Linked DNA regions of Homo sapiens. The protein of the gene in region 5 interacts with the protein of the main gene of each other region in a biochemical or structural test. Each region holds a gene or a part of one and is shown on either strand. Other genes may lie near its edges. The genes, in order: KHDRBS1, MAPK9, EPS15, PTPRA, GRB2, PLCG1 and MAP4K1.

Region 1 (3,500 bases), on a different chromosome or scaffold from region 5:
GGCAGCCTCGACCTCCTGGGTTCAAGCGATTCTTCCACCTCAGCCTAAGACCAATCTCCTGGGTTCAAGTGATCCTTCTGCTTCAGGCTCCCGGGTAGTTGGGACTATGGGTGTGTGCCGCCATTCTCAGCTAATTTTTAAATTTTCTGTAGAGACAAGCTCTCACTAGGGCTCAAGCAATCCTCTCACCTTGGCCTCCCAAAGTCCTGGGATTACAGGCATGAGCCACCATGCCCAGCCAATAAGCACATTTAGTTTTGTAAAAAACAAAAAACAAACAAACAAACAAAACCTGCATTGGGCTGGGCATGGTGGCTCACACCTGTAACACAGGCACTTTGGGAGGCTGAAGAGGGAGGATCATGGTCAGGAATTTGAGACCAGCCTGGCCAACACGGTGAAACCCCATCTCTACTAAAAATACAAAAATCAGCCGGGCATGGTGGTGGGCGCCTGTAATCCCACCTACTCGGGAGGCTGAGGCAGGAGAACTGCTTGAAACCGAAAGGTAGAGGTAGCAGTCAGCCAAGATCGCGCCACTGCACTCCAGCGTGAGCGACAGAGCGAGACTCAATCTCAAAACAAACAAACAAACAAAAAAACAAAACCTGCAATATCACAGATAAATGTATACTTAATGATATTCTGCTTTATCTTACTAGGCTTTGTTTTATAGAAATAGTATTATACTGTATGTAGTCTTATGGGATGTACTTTCTTCATATAACATTAGATTTTGGAGATTTCTCCATGTTGTTGCCTGCAGCTATAGTTCATCCATTTTCACTGCTGTACAAATATTTTCTTTTTCTTTCTTTCTTTCTTTTTGTTTTTTTTTGAGATTGAGTTTCACTTGTTGGCTAGATCTCAGCTCACTGCAACCTCTGTCTCCCGGGTTTCAGCAATTCTCCTGCCTCAGCCTTCCAAGTAGCCGGCATTACAGGCACCTGCCACCACGCCCAACTAATTTTTGTATTTTTAGTAAAGACAGGGTTTCACCATGTTGGTCAGGCTGGTCTTAAACTCCTGACCTCAGTTAATCCACCCGCCTCTGCCTCCCAAAATGCTGGGATTACAGGCGTGAGAAACTGTGCCCAGCCAAATATTTTCTGTTGTAAATCTATCACATTATCCAATGAATGGTGAAACAAGTTGCAATGTTTTGTGAACAAGGTACACCATTTCATGAATCAAGTGCTCATGTATAAGTTTCTTTGAGCATATTCCTAGAAAAGGTGTTGCTGGTTTTTTGTTTGTTTGTTTGTTTTTTAAGACAGAGTCTCGCTCTGTCGCCCAGGCTGGAGTGCAGTGGCGGCGCAATCTCGGCTCACTGCAAACTCCACCTCCTGGGTTCAAGTGATTCTCCTGCCTCAGCCTCCTGAGTAGCTGGAATTACAGGCTCCCGAGTAGCTAGGATTACAGGCACGTGCCACCACACCCAGCTATCTTTTGTATTTTTAGTAGAGACAGGGTTTCACCATGTTGGTCAGACTGGTCTCGAACTTCTGACCTCAAGTGATCCGACTGCCTTGGCATCCCAAAGTGCTGGGATTACAGGCATGGGCCACCGCACCTGGCCTTACTCTCCAGTTTGTTTGTTTGTTTGTTTTTGAGACGGAGTCTCACTCTGTCCCCCAGGCTGGAGTGCAGTGGCGCGATCTCGGCTCACTGCAAACTCCGCCTCCCGGGTTCACGCCATTCTCCTGCCTCAGCCTCCCCAGTAGCTGGGACTACAGGCGCCCGCCACTGCGCCCGGCTAATTTTTTTGTATCTTTTAGTAGAGACGGGGTTTCACTGTGTTAGCCAGGATGGTCTTGATCTCCTGACCTCGTGATCCACCCGCCTCGGCCTCCCAACGTGCTGGGATTACAGGCGTGAGCCACCGCACCCGGCCTGTTTGCTTTTTTGAGACGGAGTCTCACACTGTCGCCCAGGCTGGAGTGCAGTGGTGCGATCTTGGCTCACTGCAACCTCCGTCTCCTGAGTTCAAATGATCTTCCTGCCTTAGCCTCCTGAGTAGCTGGGATTACAGGCGCCCACCACCACACCAGGGGTAATTTTTTGTATTTTTAGTAGAGACAGGGTTTCACCACGTTGGCCAGGCTGGTCTCGAACTCCTGACCTCGTGCTTTGCCTGCCTCGGCCTCCCAAAGTGCTGGGATTACAGGCATGAGCCACCAGGCCCGGCCCTTATTTTCCAGTTTTAAAAGCAGGTTTTGCTAGCCCTGTAGAATGAACTGGGAAGGTCTTAATGTATTTCTAGAGAATACTGTAAATAAAGGAATTAACTATTTTGAAGTTTCAACAGACTTTGTAAATGTTTTCCACTGTATGCTTTTGAAGGATGGATTTTTGAGTATCTCTCCAAGATCTTTTGCAGATTGCTAATCTATTCAAAATGTTTATTCTTGAGTCACTTATACTAACTTGTATTTCCCTAATTGTAGAAAGTAGAAAAATAGGCCGGGCGCAGTGGCTCATGCCTGTAATTCCAGCACTTTGGGAGGCCGAGGCAGGCGGATCACCTGAGGTCGGGAGTTTGAGACCAGCCTGACCAACATGGAGAAACCCCGTCTCTACTAAAAATACGAAATTAGCCGGGCGTGGTGGCACATGCCTATAATCCCAGCTACCAGGGAAGCTGAGGCAGGAGAATTGCTTGAACCTGGGAGGTGGAGGTTGCGGTGAGCCAAGATCGCGCCATTGCACTCCAGCCTGGGCAACAAAAGTGCAACTCCGTCTCAAAAAAAAAAAAAAAAAAAAAAAAGTAGAAAAAGAACACTGGTATCTATACAACAGCATTTTACTTACTATATAAATATATTAACACAATAAGGTAAATTATTTCTCTTCCAGAAAACAAAGATAGATGATTGAATCCTTATGTCTGCAGACACATTCGAATATATACAACAGCATTTTACTTAGTATATAAATATATTAACACAATAAGGTAAATTATTTCTCTTCCAGAAAACAAAGATGGATGATTGAATCCTTATGTCTGCAGATACATTCGACAGTCATCACAGCTGAATATCAATCTGGCTAACATAGAAGTCTACATTCAAAATCTACATCCCTCAAAATTTTGTCTTTTTTTTTTTTTTGAGACGGAGTCTTGCTTCTTCACCCAGGCTGGAGTGCAATGGTGCAATCTGGGCTCACTGTAACCTCCAACTCCCGGTTTCAAGTGATTCTCCTGCCTCAGCCTCCCAAGTAGCTGGGATTACAGGCATGTGCCACCACGCCCGGCTAATTTTTGTATTTTTGGTAGAGACGGGGTTTCACCATGTTGGCCAGGCTGGTCTTGAACTCCTGACCTCAAGTGATCCGTCTGCCTCAGCCTCCCAAAGTGTTGGGATTATAGGTGTGAGCCACCGTGCACGGCTGTCATCATTTTTTCATCAGTCCCATCTTCAATGAAGGTGAATATGTATTATTTCGTGAAATATTTAATAAGAGGCCACTCTGTGCAGCACTCTTCAAGGCATAGAAGA
Region 2 (3,500 bases), on a different chromosome or scaffold from region 5:
AAGTGCTCACTGAGGCATGTCTTAGAAAAATGAACTTACATCACCATGAAATAACCTAGGGAACTGGTACATGAACTCAGTTCTTCCAAAATGTTATACTTCCAAAAGACCCGCTCAGGAAATGTGTTTCTGGCATTCAATTCACTAGCAAATTCTCCTTCCTACTCCTGGTTCATACATATTGTCAAATCAGAATTATGCCCACATTTTATTTACCTATTTAGCCAAAATGTGAAAACTGTCTCACACCTTTTCCTTCTGCCATATATACATATATAAATAAAGACAGAGTCTCGCTCTGTCGCCCAGGCTGGAGTGCAGTGGCATGATCTCGGCTGACTGCAACCTCCACCTCCCGGGCTCAAGTAATTCTCGTGCCTCAGCCTCCCAAGTAGCTGGGACTACAGGCACCTGCCATAACGGTCGGCTAATTTTTGTTATTTTTAGTAGAGATGGGGTTTCGCCATGTTGGCCAGGCTGGTCTGGAATTCCTGGCCTCAAGTGATCTGCCTGCCTCGGCCTCCCAAAGTGCTGGGATTATAGGTGTGAGCCACTGCGCCCAGCCCACCTTATACTTTTGATACCTCTTCTGCCTGCTCACTCCCACAGACTTCCCAGGATGCACCCACCCAGCATCTGTGTGCCATTTGCCACACAGCAACCATCTGGGCTCCCGGCTACACTAAGCCTGCTCAGCTCTAGACCCTAACCCCCCTGACTCAAGGACAAGCTCCCTCAACTCTTCCTTCTCCAACATCATCGACATTTTGCACTCTACCAATACATTCCACCACGTTGGTAAATGATGGTGTTTTCTCCTATGTTAACACAGTAGCTGCTTTCCTTTGGCCCTACCTATCGCTTTATTTCTTATTCCTATTTGCAGCAAAAACTTCCATAAAGAGCTGTCGGTCGGGCTCAGTGGCTCACACCTGTAATCCCGGCACTTTGGGAGGCCGAGGCAGGTGGATCACAAGGTCAGGTGTTCAAGACCAGCCTGGCCAAGACGGTGAAACCCTGGCCCTACTAAAAATACAAAAATTAGCCAGGCGTGGTGGCGGGCGCCTGTAATCCCAGCTACTCGGGAGGCTGAGGCAGAAGAATCGCTTGAACCCAGGAGGTAGAGGTTGCAGTGAGCTGAGATCGCATCGCTGCCCTCCAGCCTGGGCAATGGAGTGAGACTCTGTCTCAAAGGAAAAAAAAAAAAAAAAAAGGAAAGAAAAAAGAGCTGTCTACACTTGTGTCTCTAATTCCCAGCCTCTCATTTTCTCTCAAACATACTCCCATCAGGCTTTCTTCCCTCCACTCCATAAATGCTGTGCCCATCATGGCTGCCAGCAGCCATCACAAGGCCCAGGGGCCAATCCCCCGTCCTCATCTCCTCATGTGAATGAGCCTCCCTCAGTCACCACACTCTAGGAGGAGGGGTCACGTGAGTGCCTTCTCCATTTCCTTCCCTATTCCCTTTGTCCCTCCACCTCAAGGGGGCTAAGTCCCGGGTCCTGGTCTCTTCCTCCCCTGCAAGTGCTCGCTACCAGTCCTAGGCTTCAAGGCTACCGACAGACGGATGACACCCACTTTGATCTCTCTATCCCAGACCTTGCCCCTAAATTCCACTGTCTAACAGACATCTCCAAACCCTAGCAAGGCTCCTTGAAGGGTCCAGCTTCAAAGCAGAGTACAAGCCCATCTCCCCGGCCACACCCCTACCCGCCTGCTGGGGGCCTCCACCTCTCCTCTGGATGATGGCAGCCTCTGCTCTGTTCTCCTGCTCTGCCCTGCCCTTGACGATCCACCCTCAATTCAGCAGCTGGGAGGAGCCTCTTTGCATCTCAGTCAGACTAGGCACCCAGAAATGGGCAGGTGAGAGAAATATCTGCTGGGTTAATGATAAAGGACTAGAAATTAAACCAGTTGTGAGAGGAGACCCACAGATTCCCCGAGAGGACTCCACCCCAGCATCCTACAGGTGGGAGGGATGGGGGACAGATGAGAGGGACGGGGGAAGGGGAACAATAATTCCGACAAGCCCAGTGGACCCTGTTGTCTAACTCTCGTGAAGCTGCAGGCAGACCACAGGTCTATTTTACAGAAGGGGAAACCAAGGCTCAGAGAGGCCCTAAATTTCTCAAGGATGCATGGCTGCCAAGGGGAGGAGTCTGAGCTGGGGCCCGAGGTGGCCGGGCTAAAGCTTTCTCTTTCTCATAGACCACCGCAGGGACAGGAGTTCCTTTTCTACCCTGGGTCGCAAATTAAAGCAAATCTCTGAGACCCTCAGTCTGATTTCTGCAACTTTTTTCTATCTCCCAAATTTCAATCTAATATTTGAAAGAGTTGGCAAAATTTTCTTTAGAAAATGATGTTAAACTCTGTGTGGCTTTTGGGAATAACATTAGGTAACCTTATATATAACACTATTAATTACTGACATTAATGTTCATATGTATAGCAGGAATTTTAATTTTACTTACTAAAATGCACCAAAAAGTACTCACATTTTTCATTTTTGTACTTTTTGAAGAAAACATTTTGTAATAAAACAAGGAATGGCACAAAATGAGTAAGAATTGAGACAAACTGAACATTAAGTAGATATTTCTAAATTATTAGTCTTTTAATTTTTCAACTTTTCCCTTTTTAATTAAGTTTACTTGCAAAATAAAGACGTCCTTATTTATAGGTTGCAACAAGTGAATCTGAGATGAGGCTATGGAAACTGCTAGAAAATTTAGTAGAACAAATAAAATAACTTGACATATTATATAATCTATGATATAGAAAATGTAAAGAAAGGTAAATAAAATGAGAGAAATAAAAATATTTTCACTTTAAGTTTGCACTGTGAAGAATTTATAAGGAGACCACTTTGATAAAATTATTAAAATCTGAAATTATTTTCCTAAGATACATACAAAACACTGACTATGGAGCTTGATTTCCTTAAAAGCAACCATCAATCTGCCCAAGGATGGAGACCAATTTAAACTTTCATAACGAAAACAAAGTCAAAGACTAATGAAAAACTAAGTGGTTAAAACACAAATGAAAAAGGGAAGATGTGAAGAACCATGTTAGGGTAAAAAATACTGAGGATGGAAGAATGGCAAATGAGGAAAGAAGGCTATTGTAACAATTAGAGTAGTTATTCTCCTTTCTGCTGTATCTCTAACATGACTTGCTGACTACAGTATGAGTTTATCTCTTTCATTTTACATTTATTTTGACTTCCCCAGTGTGTCACAAAATAACCCACTAGACAGATTTTTAAAAAAAATTCTACAAAATGTCAGCACAGTAACAAACAAGAAAGTTTAACATATTGTTCCTCACAAAATTTTCATTTTAATCTCTTTCACTTAGGTCCTTTGTAATGTGCTTCAGTTCTTACTTTGGGGGAAAATATTTCAATGCATACCAGTAACTAACAAAATAGTACTTAATTAAAGCACACAAGCACACTAGCCTATTAAATTTAGATAGCATCTTTCCTAGTTAAATTA
Region 3 (3,500 bases), on a different chromosome or scaffold from region 5:
ACCTGTAAGACATTTTAGCATGGTGCTTGGTACATAAATGCTCCATAAGTGTTGCCTGTTTTATAAACAATAACCTAGTTTCTTCTGTTTTGTGATTCTAATTTTGAATTCACATTTGCTAATTTGGAAACTTTTTTCTTAAGGAAATTGTTCCTTCTGTAGATAAATTTGCAGTGTTATAGTTGGTCTTATGTATAGATCCTTTGCTTTATTTCCAGGTTTCCCTACATGAAGACTAATGTTTTAATGAATGATAAGATAGTTAGGGCTCGGCATGGTGGTGGCCCATGCCTGTAATCCCAGCACTTTGGGAGGCTGAGGCAATGGATCACTTGAGGCCGGGAGTTCGAGACCAGCCCTGCCAACATGGCCAAACTCTGTTTCTACTAAAAGGTACAAAAATTAACTGGGCATGGTGGTACCTGCCTGTAATTCCAGCTACTTGGGAGGCTGAGGCACGAGAATCACTTGAGCCTGGGAGGCAGAGGTTGCAGTGAGCTCAGATCACACCACTGCACTCCACCCTGGGCAACAGAGTGAGAATCTGTCTCAAAAAATAAAAACTAAAAAAAAAAGGATAGAAACACAGAGATCATGGAGTTGATTTCTTTCATTATGAATTTGAACAAACTAAAGCCAAGGAAGTTCAAGTAACTTTCTCAAGGTTACATATCCTTGAAAAGAGCTACATCTAAAATCCAGTTCTTCTAAAACCCAGTCCAGTGTGCTCAGTTATTACATATAATGAAGTCCTTCACTTTTGCGCTTCCTTACCCCCTGTTATCTGGCAGCTGAGTACCTACCTACTCATTCGTCATGCAAGATATACCTTAAATTCTTATTTCTTTATGGTATTTTCTGCATCCTGCTTTTGTTGGACTTTGTATTTATGTTACAGCAATAATAAGATTTTTCCCTGCATATTTGCTTATATGTCTGTCTCCCCTAGCAGAGTCATGGTTTTGGTCTGGGAACTTACACATTTTTAAAAATCCGTATCATTTAGCACAGTTCTTGTCCCAGTGTAGGTACTCAATAAACAGGTAACCTGAAAGAGTTGTTGTAGTGAGAATGCTACCAGATGAATGGGTATTCTTTAAAGTATTTTCTTTTTTTGAATCTCTTTAAAAAAAAAATCCATGTATACTAAAATTTCAAGAGAGAAATACTTATTGTCAGAAATTACTGAATCTTTTCTCTAAGTCACGTAGCATTCCCAGAGGATTCTTCTTAAAGGAAGCAAATGTATCCTAGACCAAGTCTACAGGTATAGCCATTTTTATTTTATTTATTTTTTTGAGACAGGGTCTCATTCTGTCACTCGAGTGCAGTGGTGTGATCATGGCTCACTGCAGCCTTGACCTCTGGGCTCAAGTGATCCTCCCATCTCAGCCTTCTGAGTAGCTGGGACTACAGGTGCACTCCATCATGCCCAGCTAATTTTTATATTTCTTGTAGAAATGAGGTTTCACCGTGTTGCTCAGGCTGGTCTTGAACTCCTGGGCTGAAGCAGTCCTCCTGCCTCAGTTTCCCAAAGTGTTGAGATTATAGGCATGAGCTACCACACCTAGCCCGTCAGGAAGTGGAGGAGGGCGTTTTTATGTTACATGTCTTTCTAGTAATAAATTCTGTTCTATATTTCTTCTTTGTGTTGGCAGATGCAAATGAAACTGATGGAAATGAAAGATTTGGAAAATCATAATAGTCAGTTAAATTGGTGCAGTAGCCCACACAGCATTCTTGTAAACGGAGCTACAGATTATTGCAGCCTCAGCACCAGCAGCAGTGAAACAGCCAACCTTAATGAACATGTTGAAGGCCAGAGCAACCTAGAGTCTGAGCCCATACACCAGGAATCTCCAGTGAGTCTAATACTTTCATAACCTTCATAATCAACCTCCTTGTGCAGATCCAAGTTTCACTGACATTATATCTAATATAAATACATGGCCTTGCCTCATCTGAGGACAATTGAGATTTCCTTTTTAGAAGCAGAGAGTCCTAATCCAAACAATTGTACGTTTTAACTAGTATAAAAAGATAACTTTAGCTAATTTTTTTTTTTTTGGAGATGGAGTTTTGCTCTTGTTGCCCAGGCTGGAGTGCAGTGGTGCGATCTTGGCTTACTGCAACCTCCGTCTCCTGGGTTCAAGCAATTCTCCTGCCTCAGCCTCCTGAGTAGCTGGGATTACAGTCACGTGCCACCACACTCAGCTAATTTTTTGTATTTTTAGTAGAGATGGGGTTTCATCATGTTGGCCAGGCTGGTTTCGAACTCCTGACCTCAAGTGACCCATCTGCCTCGGCCTCCCAAAGTGCAGGGATTACAGGCGTGAGCCACCACGCCCAGCCAGCTAATTTATTTTTTGTAGAGCCTGTTTTTAAAATGGTGGTTCTATAGAGTAAAACTTTTTTTTTAAGTACCCTCACCAAAAGCTAAAATTATTTTTATTACGTAGTGTTAAGGACATTCATTTACCAATTATTTGACGAGTACCAACTATGTGCAAGAGTGCTGTATTACATAATATAAGAGCTACAGAGACAAGAGACCTCAGTCTTTCCTTCAAGCAGCCTACAGTGTAGTAGTGTAACACTGTGTTAAAGGGCTGTGCTAAAGGAAGCGCAGAATTTTCAGTTAGGACAGTTTGGAGGGGGTTCATAAAGATTTTGTTGGGGAAAGCTTTGCGAGTTTAGACAAGTGAGAAGTGGTTAAGCAAAGAAGAGGAGGATACATTCCTGCCAGAGAAAACAGTATTAGTATAGGTACAAGGTGGAAGAATACATGCAGCACAGAATCTTGAGAAGTTCTGAAGGATATCTTGTGATGGTGGAGAGGGTATTGGTAAGAGATGAGGCGCTTCTAGTAGGCATCTGCATTACCTCTGGTGATTGTCAAAGTATAAATGTGTATCCCTTTCCCCAAACTTGCTGAACTAGTTTCTGGGATAGAGCCAGATATGTATATTTTAAAAACACACTCTATGGGTGATTGTCATGTGCACCTGGATAAAAATGACCAATTTTAGGTCAGAAAGTGCCAGAAGATGAGAAATTTAGATTCATCTTAAAGCATTGGGGGATTTATCCTACTGCAATGAACAGCCATTGAAGAATTTTAAGCAAGAAGTGACGTGATTAACTTTTAGAAATGTGGAAAACGGATTAGAGAGTGAGACTGTACCCGTAGAAGGGATAATGAGAAGAATAGAAGTTTGAGAGGTATTAAAAGTGAAAAGTTAACAGACTCGATTTTATTTACACAGTGCAGTCATGTATGCATTATAAAATATTCTTTCAAGCGCAAAAGGCAGATTACTAGGTTATCCTGCAAATAGATAAGGGTGGTATAAAGTAGCTATTGCCCTGCTACTTTTTTTTTTTTTTTTGAGACGGAGTCTCGCTCTGTTGCCCAGGCTGGAGTGCAGTGGCGCAATCTCAGCTCACTGCAACCTCTGCCTCCTGGGTTCAAGCTATTCTCCTGCCTCAGCCTCCCGGGT
Region 4 (3,500 bases), on a different chromosome or scaffold from region 5:
GGGCTATGCTCCCATTGCTGCCATCCTGCCTCCCAATGTTTCCTGTGTATTTGGGGCACCTTGGGAGGGCAAGGGCAGGTCTGTGTTTAGACAGTCTTCTGACTACTGGGTGGGCCCCTCTGAAGAGCCTCCTCCCTGAGAGAAGGGCTGCAGGTGGTGTGGTGGCAGGGACAAATATGTGGGCAGCATACCAGTGTCTGGACCATGTGTGGCCTCTGTAGCCGCAGGCTCTTGACAGTCTGGAAGACATCCAAAATCCCCTCTGCTTTCACACGCTCCAGGACGGTGCTCAGGGCACAGAAGGTCCCCGTCCTTCCTGCCCCGGCGCTGCAACAGAGCAGACACATTTACCACACCTGTGATGGCCCTCTGTGCAAGGGGGTGAGTGACAGTGGTGAGTGGCAGAAGAGGTGGGGGCAGGCAGCTGGTGCTCGCCTTTGCCCTGTGGACCCACCAGCCTGGAGGGGTTCTGGGTCGGGAGGCAGTGTACCCTGTGCCCTTCCTGCATGGCCCCATGTGCTGTGGAGGGACTCACCTGTTGGACCGTGGGGGACGACCTTCACTCACACCCCACCAGCACAGAGCCATTGCTGTCCACCTGCACATGCTGGCCTAGGTTGTTCTGACCTGCTGTTCGCTCAGTTAGAACTAGCTCTAGTCCTGTCTTTCCCTTTTTCTGACAAACCCCACTCCCTACACTGGTGTGTATCTGCTGATTCCTTTCCATGTCTTTCACTTTCTTCCCAAATCCACGGAATCCAGACTCTGACCTTGACAATATCCCCCTATTCAATGTCATCAGCTGATTCACTCACCAGACACTGAGTGCCTACTCTGAGGCAGGGACTGTGGGGTTTAGCAATGTCCCCAGACAAGAAGATGTGTGGTAAGGAAAGAGAAAAGAGGAGTGGGAGTTCTGGCAGGGTACTCAGGGAAGGCTTGGGCAAAGCCCTGTGGCTGCCTGGGAAACTGGCATCTCAGGCCCATGGCAGGAGTGTGCTCAGAGCCAGCCCATGGTGCACACCATCCTCTCCCGGCCCTGGCCAGGGACCCCTCAGAACATATTGGGCCTTGTAAGCTGTTGTTAGGATTCTAAGTAAAGGAGTGCATTTTTTCTAAAACGTAACCTCCAGCAACATGCCCCATACAAAATTCAACTTTTCCCCTCAAACAAACCTCTTTACTGTCTCTCTTCTGCTGGTCACACCAACCCAGGCTCAAACCTGGGAGACACCCTTGACTCCTCTTCTCTTTCACCCTCTGTTCATAGCACAACCGGGGTCTCCACTGCCAGTCTCCCCTGCTGCTCTCCTGCCCACTATCTGAACATTAGTCCCCTAGCACTTATTGTGCCAAGTTCAAGCTCCAAGGTCCTCTCTCTTAGCATCCAATCCTGTCTTGGCATCAATCTCAACTACTATGTGCTCACCAATATCTTGCTCTTGTATGGCTTTCTTCAGTCTGACCCATGGTCATCAGCTTCCCCTATCTGCCCCTCCTCGCTTTCTCTCTCCCGCTGAGGGCAAGGGTGAGCCATACCTGCAGTGCACGGTGATGGGGTGGTTCCCTGACTGCTGCTGCTGCTTCTGCACGGCGGCGATGATGCTGATCATGCCCTTTCCGTCACTGGGGATGCCCACTTCAGGCCAGCCATGGAAGTGGAACTGCCGGATCTGCCGGCTCTTATTCTCCTTTGGAAAAAAGGGGATCAGGGAGGCAGGGGTAACCCTGCTTTTCCTGTGGGCAGAGTCCACCCACGACCCATCTTACCCTGGTGTTGGTGACCAGGAGGTCTCGGACGGTGTAGCTCTCACATTCCTCCTCCTTCTTCAGTTCCACTGTAATATCTCCATAGGACACCAGTCCATCAGATGGCCAGTACTGGGCACACTTCTCCTGGAGAGACAGGTTGGAGAGGTGAGGAGCTCAGAGTACCACATGTGTAGAAGCAGCACTGCCCACGAGCAGCCTGACCCCTCTCAGTACAGCCACCTCTTACGCTGATACGCTTCGTCCCCAAGGTATTGAAAACTTGCAGGATCATTATATCACATCATTCCAATTAACCTCCGATCCTCACCAGAGACCATCTAAAACACTGCCGGGGTCTGTAAAGGACTCTGACTACAGGCTCACAGGGTATCCAATACTTGGTGGCTGCAGGGAGAGGAGGACGAGTGAAAATCTTTGTTCCAATTCCTTTCTTTTTCTCCCATGGGGTGTTTTCATATTTAATGCTGCTTACATCCGCCAGACTGCTAATTCAGAAAATCAGAACCAATTCACATTCCCACACAGCCATGGGCTTCACCACCGCCCAGGCCACAGTATCCTTTCTCCCTTTTACCTTTATCTCTTTGATCTGCAAGGTACCTTCAAGTTGCTAGCACTCGCCTTTCTGTCCTTGCTAGTGAGCAGGAGGTGGTCTACTGTCTGTCTTTGCTTGCACCTGGCTCACTTCCCTCTACAGCTCCTTGTGGGAGTGGCTGCGTCTCTTTTCATCTCTGTATTCCCCACACCTTGCACAATGCCTGGCACATGGTAGGCTCTCAGTATCTGGTAAATGAATTTGTTCAATGTCTGCAGAACAAGCCAAGGCATAAATACATAAATATAACATCACACAGTTATGCTGCCCATTTCTTTAGAGAATTTGGGGGTAAGATCTGAGATTCTTCACTACTGGCAATTGAAAAATTCTCAACCATACATATAATGTCATTGAAAGATTTGGAAAAAAATTAAGTAGAAAAAGAAATTGTGAATAGTCTCACAGTCCAAATAAAATCATGATTATTAAAGTGTTGAATCAAGAACATGCCCTGGACTAGTGCTTTTCCACCCATGTTCTCTAGAAGCCCTGGGGATGCCTCAGGGATCGGTGCCCTGGGCCTCTCTTCAACCAGAACAGCCAAAAAAAAAAAAAAATTCTCATTAAGGCTCACCTCGATCAGGCATTATATTAGTTTTTATGGCACTGGTGGGTGGAATGGATTTTGCTACCACAGTGCCTTCTCAACACTGCTTTACACAGTGTCTCAGCTGGGATGAAGACTGGGCCTTTAAAACCATCAGAACCATAAGGTCCCCATGGGTGTGAGCCACAGTGTGTGTGTGCTGGAGGAATTGAGCATGATCTCTCAGACAGAAATACATATCAAGTCTAGGGACTAGGTATCAACACTAAGAGTCTCATTTTTTTTTTCTTTTTTGAGAGAGTCTTGCTCTGTCGCCCAGGCTGGAGTGCAGTGGCATGATCTTGACTTACTGCAGCCTCCGCCTCCCAGTTTCAAGTGATTCTCCCACCCCAGACTCCCAAGTAGCTGGGACTACAAGTGTGCGCCACCATGCCTAGCTAATTTTTGTATTTTTAGTAGAGACAGGGTTTCACCATGTCGGCCAGGCTGGTCTCAAACTCTTGACCTCAGGTGATCCACCTGCCTCAGCCTCCCAAAGTGGTAGGATTACACAGGCGTGAGCCACCACATCTGATCAAAAGT
Region 5 (3,500 bases):
CAATGGTGAGGGTGAAGATTCTCAATCAGCAAGGCTCTCTTTCCTCCTAGGCCCCCAAGATCTCTCCACTAGGGAGGTTTTTTCCCATTTGTAGGTATAAAATAATGAATATAAACTGAAATAGCCTAGATGTACATGAAGCAAACATAAAAAGTAAGATGCTTCCCTCAAACTCCCCAGAGGCAGCACGTGTTGGCGGTTCTAACACTTAGGTTTCCAGACCTTTCTGTCTGGTGTCACATAGACATGGCTGCTGTGTTTTCTTGCCCCCAGCTTAAAATTAACGCAATTTTATTTTCAATTAAAAAAAATAAATTGTAGTGAAGTACAAATTATAATGTTTAAAAAGTACTCTAACTGGAATTAAAACCAAAAACCAAAAAAACCACAACTCTGTTATAAGCACCCAGATCAAGAAATAAAAAATCTGGCACCAGGTGCAGTTGCTCACGCCTGTTAATTCCAGCACTTTGGGAGGCTAAGGTGGGAGGATTGCTTAAGCCCAGTAGATCAAGACCAGCCCGGGCAACACAGTGAGACCCTGTCTCTACGAAAAATAAAAAATTAGCCAGGCATAGTGGTGCACAGCTGTAGACGCAGCAACTTAGGAGACTAAGGTGGGAGGATAACTTGAGCCCAACCTGGATGACAGAGCAAGACCCTGTGAATAGCTGTCACTACTAAAACACTGAAATACCACCATTCTACATTTCTATAGCATTTTATATCATTTATAAATTTGACTTTTTAAAATGATGATATGTACATGTGACTACATGCTTACGGGTGAATTTTTTTTATTTTTTATTTTTTGAGACAGAGTCTTGCTTTGTTGAATAGGCTGGAGTGCAGTGGCGTGATCTTGGCTTGCTGCAAGCTCTAACAGGCAAATGTTTTGAAAGTCTTTAAAAAGATGGGCTTTGGGCCGGGTGTGGTGGCTCACACCTGTAATCCCAGCACTTTGGGAGGCCGAGGCGGGCGGATCAGGAGGTCAGGAGATTGAGACCATCCTGACCAACACAGTGAAACCCCATCTCTACTAAAAATACAAAAATTAGCCAGGCATGGTGGCACATGCCTGTAATCCCAGCTACTCAGGAGGTGGAGGCAGGAGAATCCCTTGAACCAGGGAGTTGGGGGTTGCAGTGAGCCGAGATCGCGCCACAGCACTCTAGCCTGGCGACAGAGCGAGACTCCATCTCAAACAAACAAACAAACAAACAAACAAAAGATGGGCTTTGGCAGGGTGCGGTGGCTTACACCTGTAATCCCAGCACTTTAGGCCAAGAGCTCGAGATCAGCTTGGCCAACACAGTGAAACCCCATCTCTACTAAAAATACAACAATTCGACGGGAGTGGAGGCACGCGCCTGTAGTCCCAGCTACTCGGCAGGCTGAGGCACAAGAATCGCTTGAACCCAGCAGGCGGAGGTTGCAGTGAGCTGAGATAGCACCACTGCACTCCAGCCTGGGCAACAGAGCAGGATTCCGTCTCATAAAAACAACAAGAACAACAACAAACAAAAAACAAAAAAAAAAAAGGTGGGCTTATACAACAGAAATAGCAAGGGCGAGAGCTAAGGGGGTGAGGGGAGAAGGCTAATTTTCCAATATAATTCTTTACTACATCCCGTAGGCTCCCATCCATATGCATTTAGTGTGAAAAGCACATATTTGGATCCACCCCTCAAGCATATACAACTCATGCTGCAGCACTAATGCCAACAATCATTTTGTAGTCTAATTTGTTAACTTGAATGCTGCATTAGCTGACATGGTGCTACATTTTATGCTTCCCTCTTCCTCCATAACCCCTGCTCCCCACCCCCACAAACAAACAAACAAACAAACAAAAAAACAGGAGGTGGTAGGATGTGGAGGAGAAGGCCTGGTACTGACCCTGACCCTATACTCATGAACATCCAGCCACAGAGCAGCCCTATACAACAGCAACTACGTCTGCAAGGCCAAACACCTACATAGGCACAAGCATGGTCTTTGTTAGCAATATGGTAGACCTGAATAAATAAGGGTTTTTAAGTTGCTAGTTGCCTTTTCAGAGCTCAGAGTGGCTGAGCACTGCCCACCCTTTGGGCAGAGTCTGCAAATAACAACACAGCTGAGCCTGTGCTGGGTGCTTCTCCATCAATTCTTCTAAAGTTCTTCATAGTGGGGACAAAAGGTCAAGGCAAGGGAGTGACTGTCCCAGTCAGCCTGGCAGTAACTACAACTTTCCAAGGAAGGTAGCCTTTCCTATCTTTCCTCAACAGTCAGATTTAAATGCCTGTGTCACCCGAAACACTGAAGAAAAATAAGAATTTCGAGCCACAGGCATGTCATATAAGAAGTGTAGTATGATGTTCTGTTGAATTCCCTTTCAATCTGAAAATATGAAAACAAAAGGGAACTGAAGTCGATGTTGTGTTTGGATCTAATGAAGGAGCCAGCAAACAATAATGGCCTTCTGCCCAAATCTGCCCACAACCTAAGACTGTTTTTTAAATTTCTACTCGATTGTTAAAAGAAAATTTTTACAAGGAATATTTGACAGGATTGTATGCAGCCCACAAAGTCGAAATTACTTGCTATCTGGCTCTTCACAGAAAAAGTTTAGCCAACCCTTGACCTACAGTTTCTTTTGAGGACGACTGAAGGAAACAGAAGTACACAAATTATGTGGCTTATATGGGACCTGGGGAGGATGTGCTGTGATCCAACAGGCCCCTCCCACTCAAGATGCGACAAGCCACCTGAAAGTCTCCGCCACCAGCTGCTGTGAAAGCAAGTGGACAATGTCCAAGGGCATTCTAGTCTGAGCGTGGAAAGCCTCAGCTCCCCTGACACACTTGTAAGGCAAGCCAGCAACTGCTTCTGTGCTAGGAGCAGGGCCTGTGAATGAGGGGTGGGTGAGAACGGGAGGACAGTGGTCTGCAGGGGCTCTCAGGGGTCCACTATGTTGCGTTATTAATAAAATCGTGACAAGGGTAGCTTCTGAAAAAAAATTAAAAATATTCACTGCTCCCAGCAGCCTGGAGGACAGCATATTTTGTTCTCTTGTAAGTAGGAACACTAAGATGGAGGGATAAACATTTATTGAGAACTATTAGATGCCAAGCACCGTACTCTGGGGATACAAAGATATTAAGATACCGTCCCACAGCATTAGCACATATAAACACAAAATCATCTAAGTACCTTTTCTAAAACTCAAAAAAAATGCAGAATTATAAAACACATCTGGCTCTAAGACATATTTAACAGAAAAAGAATTACGGACCTGCACCAACTATCGTTTTATTTTTGAAGATCACTGACAGTTATTATCAATCTAAAACATATAATATTATTGACTATGATATATTATTATATACTATTAACATGCACAATCAATATCCTTTGTTAATTCCCTAGAAACGTGAATAAAAAGTATGACATCCATCCCAGTGATCTCAATTTTAAAAAGAGTGTTTGAAACAAGGAGGTGGGTCCAACCCTTCCAA
Region 6 (2,584 bases), on a different chromosome or scaffold from region 5:
CACCTCTGAGGACAGAGGCCGGGGTCCAGGCCCGTGGGCGCAAAGGTGCCTCATAGCATAGCCAGCATTCAGCACACACAAACCTACTGCCCACATTTGGGCTCAGGGTTGGCCATTTGCTAGTTCTGCTGCCCTCTTAAGATCTGACTGCCAAATAAATCATCCTCATGTCCTTTTTCCTTTGACTTGTATGCTCTTTCGGGGGCTCAGGAAAGCCTGTTGCATGGGACATGCTCACTAGAAACAGTCGCCAGATGATTATTCTGCAGTAGAAGCAGGTAGGAAATTTCTGGAAATTTCTCAGGTTAAGCAGCAAGAGCTGTAACCCCTCCTCTGGGCTAACAGGAGTTGTGGGTCCACTCTCTCCTGCCCACCCTCTGAGGGTGTGTCTGAGCAGAGTACATCCTGCCTGGGTTCTTTGTGGCCAGCCAGTTTTGGTGGTGAGCTGGAAACAACCAGAGCCCCTTTCCAGTTCCACAGAAACCTCTCCTTTCAAAAATGTTGCATTCAGTTCGTTAACACTGCCAGGTGCCATTCTGATTGCCTCTAGGACTTGGCAGCTGAAATCTCTGGGCCCTTTCAACACAGTTGAAAGGCCCTTCTCTTCCTGAAGCTCTGTTTCCATAGTTGGCTGTGCTGGGATGGAACAAAAATGACGCCACACAAAAAATTTAAGATAGATCCGGTTCCGTGGATGACATGAACTGATGATAGCCAGTATCAAACAGCGATAGTGCTCAGGTTCTTGTGTGACTTTCTTTTACAGCTTCACAGTCCCAGTTCATAGAGAGGAGGGTGGCTTTTTCCCATACACAAGAAGGTGGTGGGTGGGAATTCACCTGGGCCCTCATGATCCATGTTTCCTCTCTAGGTTTTTATGGCCTGGAGAGAAAGGTTTCCTATCAGAGAAGGAAGAGGACTGTGTAGGCCCTTCTGTTAGGGCCCATCCACGTTGGTTAGGACGTCCTTGGCGTGTTTGTTAGTGTTGACCCTTTTAGTTTTCATCAATACGTATCTCTATTTGCTGAACAAGTGTCTTTCTGGAACACAACCTGGGGAACAGACAGCTCTGCCTTTCTTAAGGCAGCTTTGTAGACCTGAGGCTCACCTCTCTTGGGCTCTGTAAGACATTGCCTTTGCCTCACTGCAAATGTTTTGATTGTTCTTCCTAGTGGAAAACGTGCCAACTCTCAAGCAAATTTAAAGATCATTTTCACTTCAAGATTCCTCCAGACCTGACAAATGTTGATTGACCCAGAAGGCAGAGTGTTTGTTGGTGGGGAAGACCCTTACTTGGGGCCGAATGCTTTGGCATCAGGAGTTGTTTGCCCCATCCCATGCATGCAGGCCGTGTCCCTACAGTGCGACAGCTCAGGGTTATGACCTGTGGAGTCTCAACCCTAACAGCACATTAGCACCACTTGGGGAGCTTCTGAAAAATACTGGTACCCGGGGCCTTAGCATAGGTATTGTTCAAAACCTCTCAAGGTGATTTAAATGAGTAACAAGGGTTGAAAAACCCTGATTTTGGCAGCACAAACCAAAAGAGCAGGCAGGGCCGGGAGAGGGAAGTCAGTGGTACCAGAAGGTAGATGGGCTCCCTTGCAGGCTCCTTGTTCTCCTGCCATCACCAGTAGAACCTTCTGGCTGACAGACCAGGGACAAGTAGACTGGGTTCAAAGTGACAGACCTTTCACTTTCAACAGCTTTGGCTCAGCAGACATGTACACATACAAAGTAGAGCCTACAAGGTCAGGGGCATTCTGCCCCCGCCACAGGACTAAAGACTGCCCTGCGGGAAGATGGCAGGAGCAGTTTCTGACCTCAGTTGAGTATCTGTGGCCATGAGCAGAAAAGGCAGGGGTCTGCCTCCTGACCAAGCACATCTTGAACATCACCTGAGAGCTTGAACATCACTAAGGACCTAGACACTCACTTGTCTTTCAACTTGAGCCCATCACTCACCATGTGAGTTCTGTTGAGGGTGGGTAGAAAGCAAATAGGTTCAGGTTATCCCACCAGACTAACTCGGTGAATGAAAGGATCATGCCTTCTTCACATTTTAATTAAATGGATCAAGCACAGTCTCAGACTGCAACTCCTGTCTTCTCTGGGTACTTTAGTAATTCCCAGGGGACTTGTGCTTAGGGGTTAATCTAGGCATTCTGTTCCCTGCCTGGAGGAACCCCACAGCAACCCCCCTGGCTGGCCGCTCCTGCGAATTCCACCCATAGTATCCCAAGTGAGTCACTGCCTGAGTCTACCCACTACAGCATTCAGCTGATTGGCTTTGCCAGTTGCATGCCAGTTTGGTCTAGTTTCCAAGGACCTGGTTTTTGGGATTCAACACACACAGCTGCTTCCCCATGACATAAGCTGGACTCCTATTCTGGTGTCCAGAATCACTGCCTGGCTCCACTGTAGGTGATTTCATTTCAAAGGACCCTTTTTCCTTCTGTCCCAGGCCTTCAGGGCCACCCCAACAAAATTCAAATGCTTTGGGTCTTAGAAGCTGGGGCTTTAGTCTTTTTCCTCCAGAAAGCCCCTGGGTCCTTATGCATATTCCCTAACCCCCGACACCGCC
Region 7 (3,500 bases), on a different chromosome or scaffold from region 5:
ACTTGGGAAGCTGAGGTGGGAGGATTGCTTGAGTCCAGAAGTTAGAGTCTTTTGACAAGATCCATCAAAACCTCCATGAGTCACTACCACATATGCAGTTGCCCAAAGAGCCAAGATCTCAAGAAATTTTACCTCTCATAAATGGAGATGTACAAAAAGAACATCTCTTTATTCAGGAAGTTTCAGTGTTTTTACGTACATGCATAATGCCTACACACGTAGTCAGTGTTGTGATAATGCACCTTTGTGGCATCAAATTTGCCAACAAATGCATAAAATGAATTAGAACTCTCTAAAGTCTTTTTTTTTTTTTTTTTTTTTTTTTGAGATAGTATCTCGCTCTGTCGCCCAGGCTGCTGGAGTGCAGTGGCGCGATCATGGCTCACTGCAGCCTTGACCTCGGAGACTCAAGCAATCCATGCACCTCACCCTCCCTAGTAGCGCTTGGCTAATTTTTTTTTTTTTTTTCTGAGATGGAGTCTCACTCTGTCGCCCAGGCTGGAGTGCAGTGGTGCTATCTTGGCTCACTGCAACCTCTGCCTCCCCAGTCTAAGTGATCCTCCTGCCTCAGCCTCCTAAGTAGCCATGACTACAGGCGCCCACCACCACGCCCAGCTAATTTTTGTATTTTTAGTAGAGACGGAGTTTTGCCATGTTGGCCAGGCTGGTCTCAAACTCCTGACCTCAAGTTATCTGCCAGCCTCGGCCTCCCAAAGTGCTGGCATTACAGGCGTGAGCCACCGCGCCCGGCCCAGCTTGGCTAATTTTTAAAAAAATGTTTTATAGAGGCAGGGTCTCACTATGTTGCCCAAGCTGGTCCTGAACTCCTGGGCTTAAGTGATCCTCCCACCTCGGCCTCCCAAACTGGTGGGATTACAGCCGTGCCTGGTTGGCTACCGGCTAAAAGTATGTATAATTTATACCTCCAGCACTGGAAATGATTCAAAGATGAAATGCATAGCATAATTAATCATACATATATACATATACATATATACACACACATATACATGTATATGTGTGTATATATGTATACGTGTATATATATGTATATGCATATATATGTACATGTGTATATATGTATATGTGTGTATATATGTATATGTGTATATATGTATATGCGTATATATGTACATGTGTATATATGTATACATGTATGTGTGTGTGTATATGTATGTGTATATATGTATATGCGTATATATGTACATGTGTATATATATGTGTATATGTATATGTGTATATATGTATGTGTATATATGTATATGCGTATATATGTACATGTGTATATATGTATACATGTATATGTGTGTATATATGTATATGCGTATATATGTACATGTGTATATATGTACATGTGTATATATGTACATGTGTATATATGTATATGTGTATATGTATATGCGTATATATGTACATGTGTATATATGTATACATGTATATGTGTGTATATATGTATATGTATATATGTATATGCGTATATATGTGCATGTGTATATGTGTGTATATATGTATGTGTATATATGTATATGCGTATATGTGTACATGTGTGTATATATGTACATGTGTATATAAGTATATATGTACATGTGTATATATGTATATGTGTATATATGTATATGCGTATATATGTACATGTGTATATATGTATATATGTATGTGTGTATATATGTATATGTGTATATATGTATATGCGTATATATGTACATGTGTATATATGTATACATGTATATGTGTGTATATATGTATACATGTATATGTGTGTATATATGTATATGCGTATATATGTACATGTGTATATATGTATATATGTATAGGTGTGTATATATATGTATATGTGTATATATATGTATATGCGTATATATGTACATGTGTATATATATGTATATATGTATATGTGTGTATATATATGTATATGTGTATATATGTATATGCGTATATATGTACACGTGTATATATGTATATATGTATATGTGTGTATATATGTATATGTGTGTATATATGTATGTGTGTGTGTATATATATGTGTGTGTGTGTGTGTGTGTCTATATATATATGTATATGTGTATATATATATATGCTGGCCAGGCACAGTGGCTCATGCCTGTAATCCCAGCACTTTGGGAGACCAAGGCAGACGCATCACCTGAGGTCAGGAGTTCGAGACCAGCCTGGCCAACATGGCGAAACCCTGTCTCTACTAAAATACAAAAATTAGCCAGGCGTGGTGTTGTGTGCCAGTAATCCCAGCTATTCAGGAGGCTGAGGCAGAAGAATTGCTTGAGCCCAGGAGGTGGAGGTTGCAGTGAGCTGAGATTGCATCACTGCACTCCAGCCTGGGCAACAGAGTGAGACTCCATCTCCAAAAACAAAACTGACAGCTGGGAGTGGTGCCTCACGCCTGTAATCTCAGCACTTTGGGAGGCTGAGGCAGGTGAATCACATGAGGCCAAGAGTTCAAGACCAGCCTGGGCAACATGGCAAAACTCCATCTCTACTAAAAATACAAAAATTAGCTGGGTGTGGTGGCACACGCCTTTGGTCCCAGCTACTCAGAAGGCTTAGGCATGAGAATCAGTTGAACTTGGGAAGCAGAGGTTGTAGTGAGCTGAGATCATGTCATTGCATTCCAGCCTGGGCAACCGAGTGAGACTCTGTCTTAAAAAAAACAAATGCTGATGATTTAGGATAGTGGAGGAAAAACTAAAAAAAGAAATATATAACAACAACAAAAAAAAACAAAAACAAACTGAAAAGAAAACTCAATGTATGAAAAAGTGTATTACAGGGATAGATTATGGGAAATTGCACCAAGGTAAGAGGCAGGATTTGAACCTTGGCACTCTCGCTCCAAAGTCGTAACCACTGCCCCTTCCTGTTCCCTGCTCTCTTTGCCGGATCTGCTGCCTGGCCCCGCGGCGACCTGCCCAGGGATGTGCCCTTCTCGTAAAGTTGTTCAATGGCTGCCCCCTCCGGATCCACAGCACGGCCGCCTGGACACATCCCTCCACCAAGGGTGGGCATTCTGGAGGGTCAAGGAGATCCTGTAGGGAATGGGAGAGCAAAAGTAGGGGTGGGGAGAAGCCTAAGGAAGGCACAAAGGCAGGGACGGGGAGGAGCTTAATGGAGTTGGGGTGTGGCCAGGCTGAAACAGGGGCGGAGCTTGTCCTTACACTCAGGATTTGGTGATCAAAGATGCATAGAGGGCAGCCAGGTGTGGTGGCTCACACCTGTAATCCCAGCACTTTGGGAGGCTGAGGCGGGTGAATCATTTGAGGTCAGGAGTTCAAGACCAGCCTGGCCAACATGGTGAAACCCCGTCTCTACTAAAAATACAAAAGAAGCTAGGTAGGCCGGGCATGGTGGCTCACGCCTGTAATCCCAGCACTTTGGGAGGCGGAGGCGGGCGGATCATTTGAGGTCAGGAGTTTGAGACCAGCCTGGCCAACGTGGTAAAACCTCGTCTCTACTAAAAACACAAAAATTAGCCAGGCGTGGTAGCA

The links.
Region 1: the proteins of GRB2 (region 5) and KHDRBS1 form a complex in vitro, tested with the Homo sapiens proteins (3 studies listed by BioGRID, with this or other methods).
Region 2: the proteins of GRB2 (region 5) and MAPK9 form a complex in vitro, tested with the Homo sapiens proteins (2 studies listed by BioGRID).
Region 3: the proteins of GRB2 (region 5) and EPS15 form a complex in vitro, tested with the Homo sapiens proteins (2 studies listed by BioGRID, with this or other methods).
Region 4: the proteins of GRB2 (region 5) and PTPRA form a complex in vitro, tested with the Homo sapiens proteins (3 studies listed by BioGRID and IntAct).
Region 6: the proteins of GRB2 (region 5) and PLCG1 form a complex in vitro, tested with the Homo sapiens proteins (2 studies listed by BioGRID).
Region 7: the proteins of GRB2 (region 5) and MAP4K1 form a complex in vitro, tested with the Homo sapiens proteins (3 studies listed by BioGRID).

What each region holds. Positions count from the first base shown.
Region 1 is NC_000001.11:32,016,868-32,020,367, reverse strand, and holds part of KHDRBS1 (KH domain-containing, RNA-binding, signal transduction-associated protein 1), read right to left. Parts: intron 1-3,500. UniProt on the Homo sapiens protein: Recruited and tyrosine phosphorylated by several receptor systems, for example the T-cell, leptin and insulin receptors. Once phosphorylated, functions as an adapter protein in signal transduction cascades by binding to SH2 and SH3 domain-containing proteins.
Region 2 is NC_000005.10:180,243,584-180,247,083, forward strand, and holds part of MAPK9 (mitogen-activated protein kinase 9), read right to left. Parts: exon of another isoform or gene 2,437-3,500; intron 1-2,436. UniProt on the Homo sapiens protein: Serine/threonine-protein kinase involved in various processes such as cell proliferation, differentiation, migration, transformation and programmed cell death.
Region 3 is NC_000001.11:51,404,267-51,407,766, reverse strand, and holds part of EPS15 (epidermal growth factor receptor substrate 15), read left to right. Parts: intron 1-1,658; coding exon 1,659-1,862; intron 1,863-3,500. UniProt on the Homo sapiens protein: Involved in cell growth regulation. May be involved in the regulation of mitogenic signals and control of cell proliferation. Involved in the internalization of ligand-inducible receptors of the receptor tyrosine kinase (RTK) type, in particular EGFR.
Region 4 is NC_000020.11:3,033,981-3,037,480, reverse strand, and holds part of PTPRA (receptor-type tyrosine-protein phosphatase alpha isoform 1 precursor), read right to left. Parts: intron 2,581-3,500; exon of another isoform or gene 2,395-2,580; intron 1,897-2,394; coding exon 1,771-1,896; intron 1,692-1,770; coding exon 1,540-1,691; intron 328-1,539; coding exon 192-327; intron 1-191. UniProt on the Homo sapiens protein: Tyrosine protein phosphatase which is involved in integrin-mediated focal adhesion formation.
Region 5 is NC_000017.11:75,329,179-75,332,678, forward strand, and holds part of GRB2 (growth factor receptor-bound protein 2), read right to left. Parts: intron 1-3,500. UniProt on the Homo sapiens protein: Non-enzymatic adapter protein that plays a pivotal role in precisely regulated signaling cascades from cell surface receptors to cellular responses, including signaling transduction and gene expression.
Region 6 is NC_000020.11:41,175,543-41,178,126, forward strand, and holds the end of PLCG1 (1-phosphatidylinositol 4,5-bisphosphate phosphodiesterase gamma-1), read left to right. Parts: 3' UTR 1-2,084; downstream 2,085-2,584. UniProt on the Homo sapiens protein: Mediates the production of the second messenger molecules diacylglycerol (DAG) and inositol 1,4,5-trisphosphate (IP3). Plays an important role in the regulation of intracellular signaling cascades.
Region 7 is NC_000019.10:38,600,954-38,604,453, reverse strand, and holds part of MAP4K1 (mitogen-activated protein kinase kinase kinase kinase 1), read left to right. Parts: intron 1-2,759; exon of another isoform or gene 2,760-2,928; coding exon 2,929-3,013; exon of another isoform or gene 3,014-3,041; intron 3,042-3,500. UniProt on the Homo sapiens protein: Serine/threonine-protein kinase, which plays a role in the response to environmental stress. Appears to act upstream of the JUN N-terminal pathway.